Linked DNA regions of Homo sapiens: region 1 is linked to region 2. The links come from fine-mapping of genetic effects on gene expression. A gene starts in region 2. The other region holds a variant in brackets. All regions are shown on one strand. Distances are from middle to middle.

Evidence for each region. PIP is the estimated chance that this variant, and not a neighbour inherited with it, causes the effect.
Region 1: its variant is the best candidate, but not a certain one, in a credible set for the expression of CARINH in whole blood (INTERVAL, PIP 0.79).

What each region holds. Positions count from the first base shown.
Region 1 is chr5:132,472,883-132,481,211 of GRCh38, reverse strand. It overlaps CARINH (colitis associated IRF1 antisense regulator of intestinal homeostasis), which reads right to left. Exons shown (of 4, transcript NR_161242.1): 4 at 5,168-5,545. Among named protein-coding and RNA genes, the nearest start is that of IRF1, 14 kb to the left of the region's middle. RefSeq lists enhancers at 1,631-1,880, 1,891-1,940 and a silencer at 7,901-7,980. The variant CTTT/T (reference allele first, on the strand shown) is at 3,867.
Region 2 is chr5:132,406,815-132,415,143 of GRCh38, reverse strand. CARINH (colitis associated IRF1 antisense regulator of intestinal homeostasis) reads right to left here and starts at 4,215. Exons shown (of 4, transcript NR_161242.1): 1 at 4,103-4,215. RefSeq lists silencers at 3,917-4,206, 4,277-4,576 and an enhancer at 4,817-4,866.

The DNA of each region.
Region 1 (8,329 bases), 66 kb before region 2:
TTTTCCTGTCTCCCTCTTCAGTGTCTGGCCATGGGGCATAAACACTACCCAGCAGTAGGTAGGCTGGCCAAGAGAAGCCAGCTTGCATCACCAGCATCATCTAGGGAATGGAATCATGGCAGTAATACGTTGCTTAGGAAACAAAAGCTCTATGGACACATCTTCCACCTTCTCAGTCCCAGAAACCATATGTACTGTGACCCCGCTCACTAGGCCCAGCCCTCGGGAAGAGTGTGGGCCCTTGAAAAGGGAAGACTGAGTGAGAAAATGATGAGAAAACTACAAAATGGGCAGAGGTCAGTCTGACACATTCATTCTCTGTCAAGCTCAGGAAGTACTGGTCCCTGATCTTGGAGATGCTGTGTGAGTGGCAGGGGGACTCCTGCTGGGTAAATATTCTATATGTGGATGCCTGGACAGGCCCCTATCCCAGGCCCTGCTTGTCAGAAGCTCCCCTTGGGCCGAGCGCGGTGGCTCACACTTGTAATCTTGGCACTTTGGGAGGCCGAGGCAGGTGGATTGCCTGAGTTCAGGAGTTCAAAACCAGGCTGGGCAACATGGTGAAACCCTGTCTCTACTAAAAAAAAACTAACCAGGCGTGGTGGTGCATGCCTGTAATTCCAGCTACTAGGGAGGCTGAGGCAGGCCAATCACTTGAACCCAGGAGGTGGAGGTTGCAGTGAGCTGAGATCACGCCACTGCACTCTAGCCTGGGCAACAGAGCGAGACTCTGTCTCAAAAAAAAAAAAAAAAAAGAAGTTCTACTTGGAAGCTCCACTTGGATTTCTCAAGAATAGCTTCACCTGGGAACAGAGGAATAGACAGGATGGACTTTTCCAGCTCCTTCAGGGACCAGCCCTTTTTAAGATTTGGATTGAGGTGGCTAGCCACCTGTGGCTTCCATCTGGGTTCTCCTAGTGGGTGATGGCAGGTGGTGCAGAGCAAGGTAGAGTGGACTGACGGGAGGAAAGTGATACCACCCAGAACAAGCAGCAGCTCTGACTTCTTTTTCTCCTGCCCTTCAATCTAATCCCTGATGGAGGGTAGGCAGTGAGTATGTGAAGTCTTAGGCAGCTGTGGAAATCTCTCAAGTTCTAAAAGCAAAGTTAATTGCTTGTAAATTACCAAAAAGAGAGAGGAATTATGTCCATCAGCTTCCAATCTCCACAACCAAGATGTAGTCCTCAATTTCCCCATCCCCTCTGATCCCAGGAGTCCTAAATGATTGGTAGCAATTGCTTGGAATCTCCAGGGAGGGACCTCAAAACTCTCCCCTGGCCCCCATCACAATGGAGCTGGGTCCTAGGGACCAAGCCTGGAGTAGTGTGGGATAGAGCCAGACCTTTCAGGATGGAGAGCTGTCCCATCACATCCTACCAAGACTTCAGCCTTTTCCTAGGAAAAGAAACTAAATAAGGTCTGACAGCTCACCTAAAGGTGATGGCAGCTGACACTACCGAGTCATTAGCCAAACAGTGCCTGAAACGGAGCAGTATTAGTAAGATCTGAACCAAGTTTGTGCTTAATAATTAGATCATTCTAAGGACCTGACAGTGCTTCTGTGGGTCATTCTCAAGAGTTTCAGTATAAGCACTAATGGTGGAAGTTCTAGGTTGAGGGAGCTAGGAGGTTGTTGAAAGATCTGTTTTGCTGGGGTTGTGATGAGATAACTGTCATCAAGGACCACTTTCCACTGGGGTAAACTGACAAAAGTGGTGCTCAGCCACACCAGCTAGATTTCTCATGTTGGGCCAAGTTTACAGACATTTGCGGGCATTTGTGGTTAGTCATGGGTTTCCTTGCCTTAACTCCAAAAGGGTATAGCTGGCTGGTCACTTTCATTGGGCTGGTTTATTCATTCAGCTCACTTGGCAATAGGAAGAAAGCTAGAAGCTAATAGGCAAACCATCCCTTCTTGGTGTGTCAGCTTTCAACATCTCTCAGTGCACTGTGTGCAGGGTGTTGTGACCATTACAACTCCAAAGGAAAGAGCTTTCTCTGATTTTTCTGGAAGTCTCCAGTGGGGCCTGCCAAAGTGGGAACTGAAATCCTGGGGTAGCCCTGGGAAGTGGAGTTTTTTTCTCTAGGAGTGATGTCTCCTGGTTGGTGGGGCTGGGAAACAGCCAGGTTGTCATTCTCTGGGACCACTTGATCTTTCACACTGTGTACAGATCCAAAACTCTGCCCTTATACTTGGAGGGGAAAGGGGGTACAGATGTCCTCCAGGCAGTCCTGTTGGAGCACCCAGGGCTAATATAGTGACCCTATAGAAAGCTTTTGTCTCTGTCAGATGTAATGCTGTTCCTTAACTTGGGCACAACTGATCTTCCAATTCATCAGAACTCAGCACTAACCTTTCCCCAGTTCTGCTGGCTGTCACAGAGGAAGGAGGCCTGGGGTGGGAGAAGGGGAAGCTGGTGCCCTCCTTTTCCAGGGGTGAAAGTACTTGGCAGGGTGGAGCTTGGCTTTATCATCCGGAGCTCCCTTGTGGGGCCAAGTCTAAGGCCTCAGAAGGGTATAGCTGGCTGGCCGCATAGTTTTCCTAGCTCCAGGCAGCTCTCAAGAGACCCATTTATGCTGGTTTTCTCAGGGTAAGGAGTTACAGAAGTCCACCTCTGCTGGCTCAGTGGTAAGACACAAGCCTGCAGAGTCTGCTGAGTGAAACTTCAGCTGGGGAGATACTGGAGGCTATGGAGCAAGGACATGGGGACTGAATGAAAGAGGGGAGGCAGACGTCCAGCCCACCATTCCTCACCCAAGGAGATGATCCCACAAGCTCACAAATGAGCAGAACTGGAAAAGACCTCAAAGTGTGGCTGGATAATGGCAACACAGGCCTCGAGTGCTCACTTTGTGCTGGGTGCTATGCCAAGCACCACGTGTGTACCACGGCACTGGCACCCCACCACGGCCCTTGTTCACAGACCAGGAAACCAACTCTCACCACCTAATCAGTATGGAGCCTTGGTTCCAACCCACATCATCTATCTGTGCCCAGAATCCAGGTTGGTTCCATATCAGGCTGCCTGAGAGAAGAACACGGAGGCCTGCACAAGAAGCTGGGGAGAGCTAGCAAGGGGCAGGGCCCGAGCACCTTATGCCAAGCAAGCACTTGTGGATGCTGAGGGAAGGCGGCAAAAGCTGCAGCTGCTGTGCTGCCCTGCCTTCAGCTCTCCTCCCTTCCCCCAGCACACACACCTTCCAACACCCCTGGCAACATGGCTCTGCCGCTACAGGCCCCAGGGCCCCAACAGGGTAGGGTTTGCCCCACCTATGCCCTGGAGGCCACCTGCAGTTTCGAAGGGTGGGGCCCCAGGGGGCCGAGACACAGACAGGCTTGTAACTTGGCCTCAGTGCAGGGGGCAGCTTGGCCACACCAGGCCTGTTTGGAGCAAACGGGGGACTCTGGCCTGCTAGGCCTTATCTCAGCTCCCAGGATCAAAGAGGACTTTTTAGCCATGTTTCTGTCTCAGCAAGACAACCTAGTCTCCTGTTCTGCTTTAAACCAGACCCTCTGTTGGGTCCTGGAGTTCCTCAGAGGTCTGGACCCTGGATGGCTGTGAGACTCAGGACCATGCACAGATGCATTCTCATTCCCAGCCACCAGGCTCGGGTCAGACCCTATGGCTCTGGTGGGCCTAATTCCTGGTTTCTTGATCCCTGAGAACACCTGGCACCTCTGGCTGCTGGCCAGTTGCCACCTTACATCAGGCGGGCGCTGGGATTCACCTGCAGGCTTCCTTTAGGGAAGGCCCTCCCCTGCCCTCCTGTGCCAGCCCAGAGGGGCAGCCTGGGTGAGGTCTTCACATCCATTTCGGGCCAAATGCCTTGGATTGGCTGGATCCCCTCCTGTTTCTGCCCTCCTT[CTTT/T]CCTTCAAAGCAACAAGGTTGTGGGGGTGTCCAGTTCTGCTACCACCTCTCCCTCACACTGTCAATCTGGAATTTGTCCAGAATTGGGGCCCAAGTAGTGAGTTCTTACACAGTGGTTAAACAAACAAACAAACAAAAACCCCACACAACTCAGCTACACCTTGGCTCAGAGAGGCCATGGGATATACCGAGGATCTCAGATCAGGAGGGAGGCCCCTGGAGAGGTGTGGCGGGGATCATGTGCTTCTCTGGTTTCTTGGAGAAAGCTGACTTTGTGTAACAAGGGAGGCATATGGACATGGAGTTGGTGTTTGGGGATGTGGGAACCATTAGGCCAGAATTACAAGAAGTCCTGTCATGTCGGCCACACTAGGGCAACAGTGGACTGGGGCAGGGGCTGATGACCTGATTGTGGAGGCAGTGGAGGGCTGTTTCTGCTGGGGACCCAGGGCTCCCCTCCAAGTGCTCCTGCTTGGCTTGTTGGGATGGGGAGAGGAGCTGGAGTTGGGATGGGGAGAGGAGCTGGAGTTGGGATGGGTCACAGCGAAGGCTACAGCCTGGCATTCCCATATGGGGTAGGGGTGGGGTGGGGTGGGACAGGGAGGAGGACCTGAAGGGGTGTCCAACTTTCCGAGACTTGGAACAGCCTGGTGAGTGTTCATCACCATTCTTCTGTCATAGGTGGCGAGCAGCCAGAGTTCTGGGCACAGGAGACCATCTACCCCCAAGCTTGTGCGGCCTGCCTCAGGTCACTGAAGAGGACCCCATTTTTGGTCTTTGGCCATCCTAAGACTTGTACAATGGAGCCCTGGGGCCCTCCCTTCTCTGACCAGTGACAGCCCTCACAGGCAAAGCCTCACCCTCTAGGGCCTGTCCCTTCCTGTCTGCCAGTCCCCACAGGGTCTGCGGGGTACCCAATCTCGCCAACCAGACTGGAAGCTCCCCAGGGGCAAGCAGCTTATCTCTTCCATATTCTCACAGTGTTCAGCCAGGATTGGCACTTCAGAGCATCTCCTGCTGCTCAGCAGAGATGTAGTTAGCATCTCTCTATAGTAGCACTTTCTGAGTCCCTCCCCTGGGGGAACCAGGCTAGACTCTGGGGTCCAGAGGAGCAGGCAGGCTGAGAGGCAAAAAGGGCACAGAGGAATAACCAACCCTGCCCCTGCAGTAGAGCCCTGGGCAAAACAGGCCATGACCAACCAGCAGCCAAGGTCAAAGTCCCCAGAACAAGGGCCAGTGTGTGCATGACATGCAGCATGACCGCTTGTCTCTTTTCGGCAGTACTGGAGATAGAAGGCTGAGTCATTAACAACTTTCTTTTATTAAAAATGTACATAAGTAAAAGGAACATGGTTTAATTGTGCAAAGAGTAAGAAATACAGATGAGCAAATAACACGTATTAAAGCCACCTACGATATACCACCCAGAAGTAACCAGGCTGTTGAATTTTTAGAGACTGGGGTGCAAACACATTTTTTCACTCCCTTGTGCATATATCTGGGAGCTCTGCCATATACAGACACAGACGCGGTGTCCACAGGCGATGCCTCTGCTGGGAATGCTGCAAGCAGGAGTCTATCCTTTCCTGGTACTGGCTCGGGGGCCCTCCTCAGCGCCCAGGTCACTCTAGCATCCAGGAGTCCAAAGGCCCGGCTGTGCAGGCTGCAGAGGTGATCTAGAGTAGATTAGGAGGTGCAAAAGGCTTGGAGATAGGCTGACCAACTGTTCCAGTTTGCTTAGGACTGAGGAGTTTCCCAGGATTTGGGACTTTCAGTGCTAAAACTGGGAAAGTCCCAGGCAAACCAGGGCCAGTTGGTCACCCTCCCTGAGGGCCAAAGGCTTTGTCCTGCCCCTCCTGCCCTGTGCTCCCCATCTGCCCTCCTGCTGGGGTTCTGGATCCCCCATCCCCACACCAAGCAGCCCAGGGACAGAGGCCTGGCTGGGGCCTTGCCTCCCGTGGAAGCTCCTGAAAGTTCCAGCCTGAGGCCTAGGGAGGGACAGGGGAAAGGGAATAAATTAAGGCAGACAGTCTGTCATCACCCAAGAAAAGGGCCAGGTGAACTGTGGCTGTTAAGGGCAGCTAGGGATGTACAAGCAGAAGGGTTCCAATACTTGGCTGGCCACCCCTCCAGCCCTGGAGCTGAGTGTGTGGTCCCCAGAGGCCCCAGAGCCAGAGAAGTGCAGGGTGTCTGGATTGAAAGGCCTCAGCTCCCTGGGCTCCCAGAGCCCTGGTGCCTCAGGCCTTACCTTCCCCCTCCTCCATCTCCACACCCCCTGGCACTTCCTGCTCAGCTCTTCTCTACCTAAGACTGGGAGCAGAGGATGAAGGAAGAGGAATCCAGGACAGACCGAGCTGAAAGAGGAGCAGGCAGGTGGGAGGGGACTTAGGTAGAAAGGACCTCTCTGATAGTGGCGGGAACATCCTGACTGTGGTCTGGCCCAGCCGGCTGTCTATGCCTGAGGATGCCTGAGGATGGGGGGCCCTTGGAAAACTCAGAAGAGAGGCTAGGTGTGGAAGGCAGAGTATTGGTCCACAGTGGAATAAAGAGGTCCACGTCCTAATGCATGAGCCTATGAATATGTTGCTACATGGCAAAGAGGAATTAAAACTGCAGATGGAATTAAGGTTGCTAACCAGCTCACTTGCAAATAGAGAGATTACCCTGGATTATTGGTGTGGGCCCAGTGTAATCACAAGGGTTCTTAAATGAAGAAGGAGGAGGCAGAAGGGTCAGAACCAGAGAGATCGCATTGTGAAAAACCTGACCAGCCAGTGCTGGCTTTGAAAGTGGAGGAAGGGGTTGCAGGCCAAGGAATGCAGGCAGCCTCTAAAAGCTGGAAAGGGAAAGGAAGGAAAGGGATTCTCCACTAGAGCCCCCAGGAAGAAATGCAGCTCTGTTGACACCTTGAGTTTAGCCCAGTGAGACCTGTTTTGGACTTCTGACTACAGAACTATAAGAAAAGAAACGGGCCAGGTGCAGTGGCTTACACCTGTAATCCTAGCACTTTGGGAGGCTGAGGCAGGCAGATTGCTTGTGCCCAGGAGTTTGAGACCAGCCAGGGCAACATAGTGAGACCCTGTCTCTATAAAGTATACAAAAAATTAGCCAGGTGTGGTAGCACGTGCCTTTAGTCCTGGCTACTTGGGAGGCTGAGGTAGGAGGATGGCCTGAGCCCAGGAGGGAGAGGTTGCAGTGAGTCAAGATTGAGCCACTGCACTCCAGCCTGAGTGACAGAGCAAGACCCTGTATCCAAAAAAATAAATAAATAAATAAAAAATTGTGTTGTTTTAAGCCCCTGTTTATGATAATTTGTTAGAGCAGCAATAGGAAACTGATCCACTGGGAAACCATTTGGGGGATGCAGCTGCCCAAAATCCCTGCACGTGGGTTGGACTCAGCCTCACAAGGCTCTACAGCCTCTCTGTGAAAGACTCCATTCCCTCTGGGAGAAGCTCAGACTCTAAAGCCCTGGGCAGGGAATGGGCCTCCATGGCATGGAGGGGGTCAAGAAGGATGCCCCCCAGGATAGTGCCTCTGCTGGACCTCTCTATAGGAAGCAGCTGCCTCTTTGAGCCCCCTCCCCAAACCTCAGTGAGCTGAGGTGCTGGCTCTGAGTGGTCATGGAGGGGCTTGCCTGAGGTCAGGCCACCTAGGACAGCTAGTCAGAGGCCACAGGGCTTGGCTTAAGATTCCCAGGAAGGAGTTGCATGGCCCCTCCACACATCCACAATACTCATAACACTCTCAGTCCTTGGCCTTACTAAGGGAATACTAAGGGGACTCAGTTTAGCTCTGGAAAAGCTAGGACTACTGGAAAAAAAAGTATAGAGGAAAAAAAATAGTTACTGGATGCCAGCCAGATCTGCAAAAAGTCCCCACTCTGCCACTTACTAGCTATGTGGCCTCAAATAAGCCACTAGATCTTTTGTAGCCTCAGTTTCTTCATCTGTAAAATGGGTATAACATCATTTGTCTTATCTGTCTCACAGGGTGTGTGAGTCTCAGGTGAGATAACACACGAGAAAACATTGTGCCGCACAACTTGAGATGCAAACAGTAACGATCACAACCCCACATGCCTTTTGATAGGGTGAATGATCACAGCATCCTGTGTTAGGGAGGAAAGGGTGAGCACAGACGCTTCAAAACTCTGTCTTACCCACAGGCAGAAGGGTGTAGCCTGGCCAGGGGAGAAAAGGACCCAGCCACTGCCACCGCCCCGCAGCTCACACCGGATGTGCGACAGAGCCACCATGCAGCCCCACAGGATGTCCTCCAACCACTACAGACTGTGGGGCTTTGCTTTTTTTTTTTTTTTTTTTTTTTTAAGAAAAAGGTTTTCTAGTTTCTTCTACATTAAAAATAATCCCTCCTTCTCATAAAGCACAATTTTACAGAGGAAAAGGGAGATGTGAAACTATACACAATTCAAATCTAATTAATATATAATTTTTTTG
Region 2 (8,329 bases):
CTTCTGATAACCACAGCCCAAACACCATCCAAGTTAGTTTTACCACAGTTTTACTATGACTGTGTCCATTTTACTTCACGTTCACAAATATTAAGTACTATAAACAAAATATTAAAATAGTTAAAACGTTTCAGCTTTTTGATGTAAAATATCCAGCAGCTGAATCTTCAAAGGCTATTTTCATGCTCTTCTAGCTAGTCCCTGACCCTAGGGCAGGGCTATTTTATGAACCTTTAATTAGTGGTAAGCTTACAACAAACTGATACTGCACTTGGTTTCACCAAGCTGAAGTAAACTCTGTAAAAGATGAGGAAGTGACTTTAGCATTTGCAAATATTTCAGAATGCCTTTGTGCCAGCAAAGGTCAAACAACGATCAGAATTGCATGGATTCCAAAGTATACTTTTGGGAAATAAGAGACTCAGAGAAGCATTACTCAAGATACAATTCACTATGAATTTTCAGCAATTCAATGAAAAGTCTAAAAGAAATACATGTTTAAACTTTCCTATCCTGGTATAATATGCAATTGCACAAATAGGTTAGATTGTAGATTAATGCAATTGTTAATATTTCTAACATAGAAAAAGGAAATTGTATTTTGAAGCAAGAAGAATTAATAACAATTGGAATTGTTCAGGTTATTTTAATAATTCCCAGGCAGATACCTATGTGTATATGTGCCTGTGGGGAAAAGGTAAGGAAAAAGAGACGTGAGAAAACATACTTATGTAATTCCAGCACTTTGGGAGGCTGAGGCGGGTGGATCACTAGGTCAAGAGATTGAGACCATCCTGGCCAACATGGTGAAACCCCGTCTCTGCTAAAAATACAAAAATTAGCTGGGCATGGTGGGACCTGTAGTCCCAGCTACTCGGGAGGCTGAGACAGGTGAAGTGCTTGAGCCCGGGAGGTGGAGGTTGCAGAGAGCTGAGATTGTACCACTGCACTCCAGCCTGGGTGACAGAGCGAGACTCCATCTCAAAAACAAAAACAAAAACAAAAAATAAAAAAAAAGATTTATTATGTTTGGAAGGAGGTTATAGGTTCTGATTAATTTTTGCCAGAGACAAAAATACAAGTTTATCTAAGCTTAAGAACTAAATGATGGCCTATTGTAAGATATAGAACTTCCAACTCACTGAATAAAAAGAAGGAAAGAAGAAACAGGGGACAAATACACTTTGATGAATCCATAGAGTCACAAGGAAAAAAAAAACACACATGATAAATACATGGCAAAACAAGATGGCAAAAATAAGACCACATTTATCAGTGATCAAAATAAATATGAATGAATTAAATTCCATTGTTAAAAGACCAAGACTTTCACCCTAAATGCCCATAAATGGAAAATGGATAAATTATGGTATGTATTCCATTTTAATGGATGTGTATGTGTGTGTATGTATGTGTATGTGTGTGTATACACCACAGAAAGAGGCCCATGAGTTTCAGTTTAGAAAGATGTAGAAATATATTTGTATAAGCATAGGAAAGGGTCCAGAAAAACACACCAATATGATATCTGTGGTTGCCTATAAAGAGCAGTTTACCTATGAGTTTCAGTTTAGAAAGTTGTAGAAAAATATTTGTATAAGCATAGGAAAGGGTCCAGAAAAACACACCAATATGATATCTGTGGTTGCCTATGGAGGCTGAAGTGGACTTTCCTGTCTCACTTTACAAATGTCTATACTGTTTGAATTTATTACAAAAGCATATGACTAAAGAAACATGAAAAAATGGAATAATAAACATAAGGGCAGAATCAGCAAAATAGAGGACATAGAGGACCAAAAAAAAGGTGGTTAACAAAACTTGAAGTATTTATTTGAAAGTAGACAAACCTCTAGTGAGACTGATCAAGAATAACTGACAGAAGATTTTTTAAAAATGAGATTACAGAAAAAGGAAGAAATGACAAATAAAACAGACATTTTAAAACTTATAAAGGAATAATATAAACACATGATAATACATTTGAAAATACAGATGAAATGAATAATTTCTAGACAATAAAAATTGCCAAATTTGGCACAAAAATGTGAATAACCACTTAAGAGACTCAAATAATTTTGAAACCTCTTCCCCATAGAGTTTCAGACCCAGAAGATTTTACAAGTGCCTCCTACTAACTTCCAAGGAGCAGAAAATCTCTATCTTAATGGAGTTGCTTTAGAAAATAGAAAAAAAGAGAAAACATTGCCCAATTTGTTACTTGATTTTGAAATGTTAAATATGGACTGTACAAATAAAGAAAAATACAGGATAGTTTCACTTATAAACATAGATGTTAAACTCCTAAATAAAATATTATCTAATCAAATACGAAAGTGTATTACAAATACATCATGATAAAGTAATTCACCACATTAGTCGATTGTGGAAGAGGTTACTAGTGCTCACCAGTCTCTCGTTCTTTTCCTCCTGGGAACACCACCAGGCTACATTTCCCAGCCACCTTACAATTAGGTGAGACCCATGAGACTAGTCCATGCCAATGGAATGTGAATGGAAGTGCATCTAATTTTCTGGCTCATGAAAACAGCAGCATTTTCTCTATTTTCTTTTTTTCTTTCTTTGTTTTTTTTAGACGGAGTTTAGCTCTTGTTGCCGAGGCTGGAGTGCAGTGGCGCGATCTTGGCTCACTGCAACCTCCGCCTCCCGGGTTCAAGCAATTCTCCTACCTCAGCCTCCCAAGTAGCTGGGATTACAGGCATGTGCCACAATGCCTGGCTAATTTTGTATTTTTAGTAGAGACGGGGTTTCTCCATGTTTGTCAGGCTGGTCTCAAACTCCCGACCTCAGGTAATCAGCCCGCCTCGGCCTCCTGAAGTGCTGGGATTACAGGCGTGAGCCACCGTGCCCGGCAAGAGCAGCATTTTCTAAAAGCAATCAGTACTCAACACCATCCTGCTGAGGTAGGGCAGCGGCGGACTCCATGTTTTGAAACTTAGGAACTTAGACCATCTTTTGTCAAATTCAGATGGTTTTCTCAAAGTAAAGATCATTCAAGTTTTGTTTCAGTAATGGGCCGTATGATCAGATCTGTGTGATTAGGCTGAATTCATTATTATTGAGACAAAAATTGAGTTAAAGGGGATTCTTGGTATTGGCCTGCAAAACCTGTCATAACTTAAATGTAAAGTTTCTGATGATTTAGTCACTTTACTCTCAGCTCTTAGCTCTTTCACTCACCTGTCCTTGTTCTACACAACCTGCCTGATGGGTAACTTGAATACATATTTTCTCTCTTCAGGGGATGGGAACGCCCTAAGGGCAGGGGCTGTTTCCACAGCCCTGGGGTGGAACCCCCTTCCTGCATACCAAGAATGAGTTGGCTATACTTGACGAAGGGCAAAGACAAGGTGGCACGCATCTTTCATGCTTCTGCTGGCAGATGCAGTGGACTGGAAATTTCCTGGTCTGGGAAGGACTCGGTCTGTGAGTGCACCTATCCCTGACATCTATGCTAGCCCCGGGATGGGGGCCCCAGCAGAGTAAGGCCCTGACTTCACATGGACAGGGCCAGGGCAAGGGGGCCACATCCTGGCCTAGTTGCTCTCCATGCCCGTGATCAAGGGAGATGAGCTGCCAGCTTGCTCGGTCAAGGAACACTTGGAAGGCACTCCAAGTGCCCCCAGGTGCACCAGATCTAGGAAACTTAAGCAAACTACATGAGGTATGGGGTGGGGCCCAGTGGGAAAAATGAGTCTGACAGGTCAGAGGGAGTAGATTATGAGCTCAGGTTAGGCATTCTGTTCAGCATTTTACGTACACCCTCCCACTTTTGATTTTTACCAACACCCAGGGAGGTCGGTGCTCTACAAAAGGGAAAGGCGTGCTCAGGTGGCCCGACTTGCCACGGTTCCAGCTCGACCCCGGGCTGCTAGCCCCTTGGCACGCTTGTCTGAGGCCTCCCAGGTCTTCCAGCCTGGCCTGGAGGCTCAAAGCCACGAAACCCAAGGGTGCCGCTTCTCAGGCCCTCCCCGCCCCCACGGCAGAACCCCTGACCCTGCCCGGGTCAAACGCCTGGCGTCGGGCCCGCCGGGTCCGCAAGGAGGAGCCCGCGAGGCGGCCGCGAAGGGGCTGTGCTTACCTCGCCCGGCGCGGGTTGCGGCCCCAGGGCCCGCGCTCCAGGCTGGCGGCCGCTGCATTCTGCGCCCCTCGCCTGAAACGGCAGCTGCGCCAGTCCTGGCCACGACCGCTTTCATTTTCCTCAACGACATCGGCAGGAAAGCGAAAGCGAAACCCTCCGGGAGGCGGGACCGGGGCCGAGCGCGCAGTGAACGCGGGGCGCGCGGCGGGCGCGGGCCGGCAGCCAGAGGCGGGGGCCCCGGGCTCGGGTCTGCGCGTGGCCTGGCCCGGTGGCGTTCGGGGTGGAGCTGGGCCAGCCGAGTGCCCGAGAGCTAGTCCGCCACGCACACCTGCCTCGGCGGGACCCGGGCCCGGGCTGGGCGGGAGGCTGGGCAGGCCCGCCGTAAGTGGAAAGGCGCCCGCGGCGCTTCGGCCGACCGGGACAGGTTCCTCCATCTGCCCTTCATTCAGCGTTTACTTGGGCCTGTGGCTGGCAGCCGGCCCGGGACCTGACCGCTGGCGGCGCCTCGGGCTCTGGCCTGAGGAGGCAGATGGCAGCCTGAGCAACTGGGACCAAGCCTCTGAGGAGTCCCCGTTGGAGGGGACTTGACCATGAGGTACCAGGCATCTCATCTGGGGTCAGCGGAGAACCCAAAAGTCAATGACGTCGGTGAAATGGGGGTCCCTTCATCCGATAAGAGAAACTGGAACAGCAAGCCTATGGTTTGGACTCCCTGGTCTAAGCGGTGCCCATCAATATCTAAACATTTAGAGATTCCAGGTTTCAGTGTCTGGCCGTCTCTTACTGTCAGTGATTTGGGGCAAAATATTCAAGTAGTTAGACTTAATTACTTCCCCTGTGGGATGGGAATAATAATAATCATACCTACTGCCAGAATTTTAGGAATGAACAATAGAAGGAAGAAAATACTTAAAATTTTCTGACAGCCTCTAAGTGGGTTCCTTGAGGGCAGCAACCAAGTCATTTACCTGGATGCTTGATAGACATTCTCTAATGGCCAGTCCATCAACTTGGAGCTATCTCCATGATAACAGGTTAGTTGTCAAAGTTTGGACAATATTATCTGGAGTTTAAAGACTGAGGAAGCCCTGCAATTTTTTTTGGAAGGTGTCTGAAACTTAGCCTGACAATTAGCCCCCACAATTATGCCACGGAACCAGGTTTTTGTTAGAGTGGAGCATGGCCACAACGTTTGATGGACATTCCTACAGCGGTGTTCAGCGCTGGCCACTGAGGTCTGAAAATACTTTTGCAAGCATTTCTATTCACTTGCTTTTAGAAAACATTGGTAAGACACCATACTCCAAACACAGTTTGCCCTGTCTGTACGTTTGTTGCAAAGCAAACATAAAAGTTTTTGCCATAGAGCAAACACAGAGCAGTCTGTTATAACTGGAACAAGAAACCAAAATGAGCTATTAAATCTGCCCAGAGTCACTTTGGTTTACCTGTTTGTAATTTGGGCACATTCCCTGCAAGATGGAGGCCCTGGTCTGTGACTGATGTAGGGGCTTGTATGTGTCCTTGCAATAGTTCCCTCAAGAGCAGGTGGGAAAGTGGGGCAGGCCAAATGATGACCTTAGAAAAACAACAGCCTGTTTCTCTGTCCAGAAGATGCTACTTTTAGTCTGTAGTATGAAGGAAAAAGAAAAAACAAAAAAGGCAAGCCTTGGAGCCTCTTCCTCCTTATAGGACAATTCTTGACTCCAAGATAGCAAAGTAGAGTTAAATCTGCTTCTGCATAAAAACTATGTTTGGGAAGATGAAGATCAGGAAAAGACAGGAAGAGATGTAAGCAGATAAGCCAAATCCTGGTTACCTTTTATAGACATCACACATGTGAACAGAGAGCATCAGGAGGTCAAGGCCGGCCTGATGTTTTTCATCTTGGCAACTTCCCAAGGTCCAGGTTTGGTCCTTGACTTTGTGGGGCCAAAAATCTCATCTGACTTCCAGTGTACCAGAGTCGATTAGCACTGTTGCATAAAGTCAGAATGACAACTGACTGATTTCATTCACTATTTGCTAGAGAAGTGCTATGCTAAATGCATTACATGCATTATTACCTCATTATTTCTCCCTACTATCATGTGGTATATTATAATCTATTTATTTTTCATTTGGGAGAAAAAAAGATGAAGGAAATCCCAAGGTCACATAGTTACTATGTATGTTAGTGGCAGGGTTTGAATCAAGGCCATCTGACCCCAAAACCTGAAGCTTATCCATTCCTGTTAGAAGCAAGACTGTCGGGAACACTGGACTCGAGGCCACCTGATGAACACATTCTCTTCTTGTAGCCATGCAGTTTGGAGCCCCATAGTCAGAAGGTGGCTTAGTGAGCCTAAAATCAGAATCGGAAGAGTGAATTGTCTGACTTAAATGTTTGATGATATCAGGCTCGGGCAATGTGGGATGTCTCTTTCCACAACACAGGTCAAAACCTATAGGAAGTACTGTTCACTCATCCCTGCTGGCCTGGCCAGCCCTTCTCCCTAGATGGGGCCTGGTGGACACCATCTGTTTGTGTCGATGAGGCTCTCTGTATTATGGTACCCAGGCCGCCTCTCCTCAGATGGACATTTTTAGATAGAGCAAGGCGTTACTGAGTAACATTACTCAGTAAGGTCTCTCAGCCCTTATTTTTCTTTATGGAGACATTTTGTATCTTTGCTCTGATTGGCTTGATTTATAATTTAACTTCTAAAGGACAGCTTTCTATCCCACCTTTTGGAGACAGCTCTGTTTTCCTTACTATCCTTCCTGATCTAACCCTGGAACAAAAGTTTGTGCAGTAGCAAGTTCTGCAACAAGAACTTTATCCAGGCCTGCACTGATAGTCAGTAAAGACACAAAAGAAGCAAAAGTCCAAGTCCAAGGCCAGTCCCAAAAGACTTTACTACAGAATCGGGCAATGGAGGGTTGGGGGGCGGGGCACAGCTGATGATCACGCAACCCAGCTGAAGAATGATATAAATGGAATGAAAGCATGGTGCAAGCAGCATCTAACTTAGGAGTCACTGGTTAGGAAAAAAAAATACCTGATGTGTGATTCAGATAAAAATGAAAAAAATAACCCTTTTAGATATTTCATTCAACAAATATTCTGTGGCAACTACAAAATGCAGCCACCCTGCTAATGCTGGGGATTCAGTGATGAGCAAAAATAAATGTGGTCTCTGCCCTCGGGAAACACACTTGAGTGAGGTAATAAAGCAATCAAATAATTGGTCAAATATAGAATGCCATCCTAAATACTACAAGATGCATTTGACGCTATAAGAGGGAATGCCAGAGGCAAAACTCCTCTAATGGGCCACCTGTACTCTGGGGCTTCCTGTCAGTCTGGCCAGCACTTTCTCAGAATGGCTCTGCAGTCTGAGGCTCTTCCTATCTACTCCTCCATCCTTCCCTCTTCTCTTTCACAGGGGTCAGACCTGCATTACGGTGTGGGGCTCTCTCTGCTTACTCTTGCTTCTGCTCCTCTTTATTCTTCATAGGCATTTTCCCCAATAAACTCTTCCAGGTTTAATTCCATCTTGGTGTCTGCTCTAGGAGGACCCAAGCTGACACAATGATGCCCTTCATTGACTTGGAGAACCTTGGAAGAGGCCCAAGTTTTGGAGGGCTCCAATTCTGCACATGTTGGCTTAGGTGTCAGGTGGGCAAGGAAGCTCCATATCTGCTTTCCCACTCAGAAGATAATGCTTGTGCTTTGGTACTAAGCTATCAACCATGTCCTCTGTGGGAGCTAGGGTCTGGTCTTGTTTTTAAAATGCTTGTTCCATGGATAATCAGCAATTCTCAGTTTAGATCTCAATACTAGAACTATTTCCCTCTAGAAAAGCACAACCTACCAATAGCAAAAAACATCCCTTAACTTCCTTGAGGAGGAGTTAAAAGTCAAAAAATCGAAAGGAGATGAGCAATTGTTCCTGAACAGCCAAAGGGAAATAATTTTGATGTAGGGGGGCCCTTAGTTTTCTGGGAAAAGGAAGTCTTTTTTTTTTTTTTTGAGATGGAGTTTTGCTCTTGTTCCCCAGGCTGGAATGTGATGGTGTGGTCTTGGCTCACTACAATCTCTGCCTCCCAGGTTCAAGTGATTCTTCTACCTCAGCCTCCCAAGTAGCTGGGATTACAGGCACCCGCCACCACACCTGGCTAATTTTTGTATTTTTAGTAGAGACGGGGTTTCCTTATGTTGGCCAAGCTGGTGGCGAACTCCAG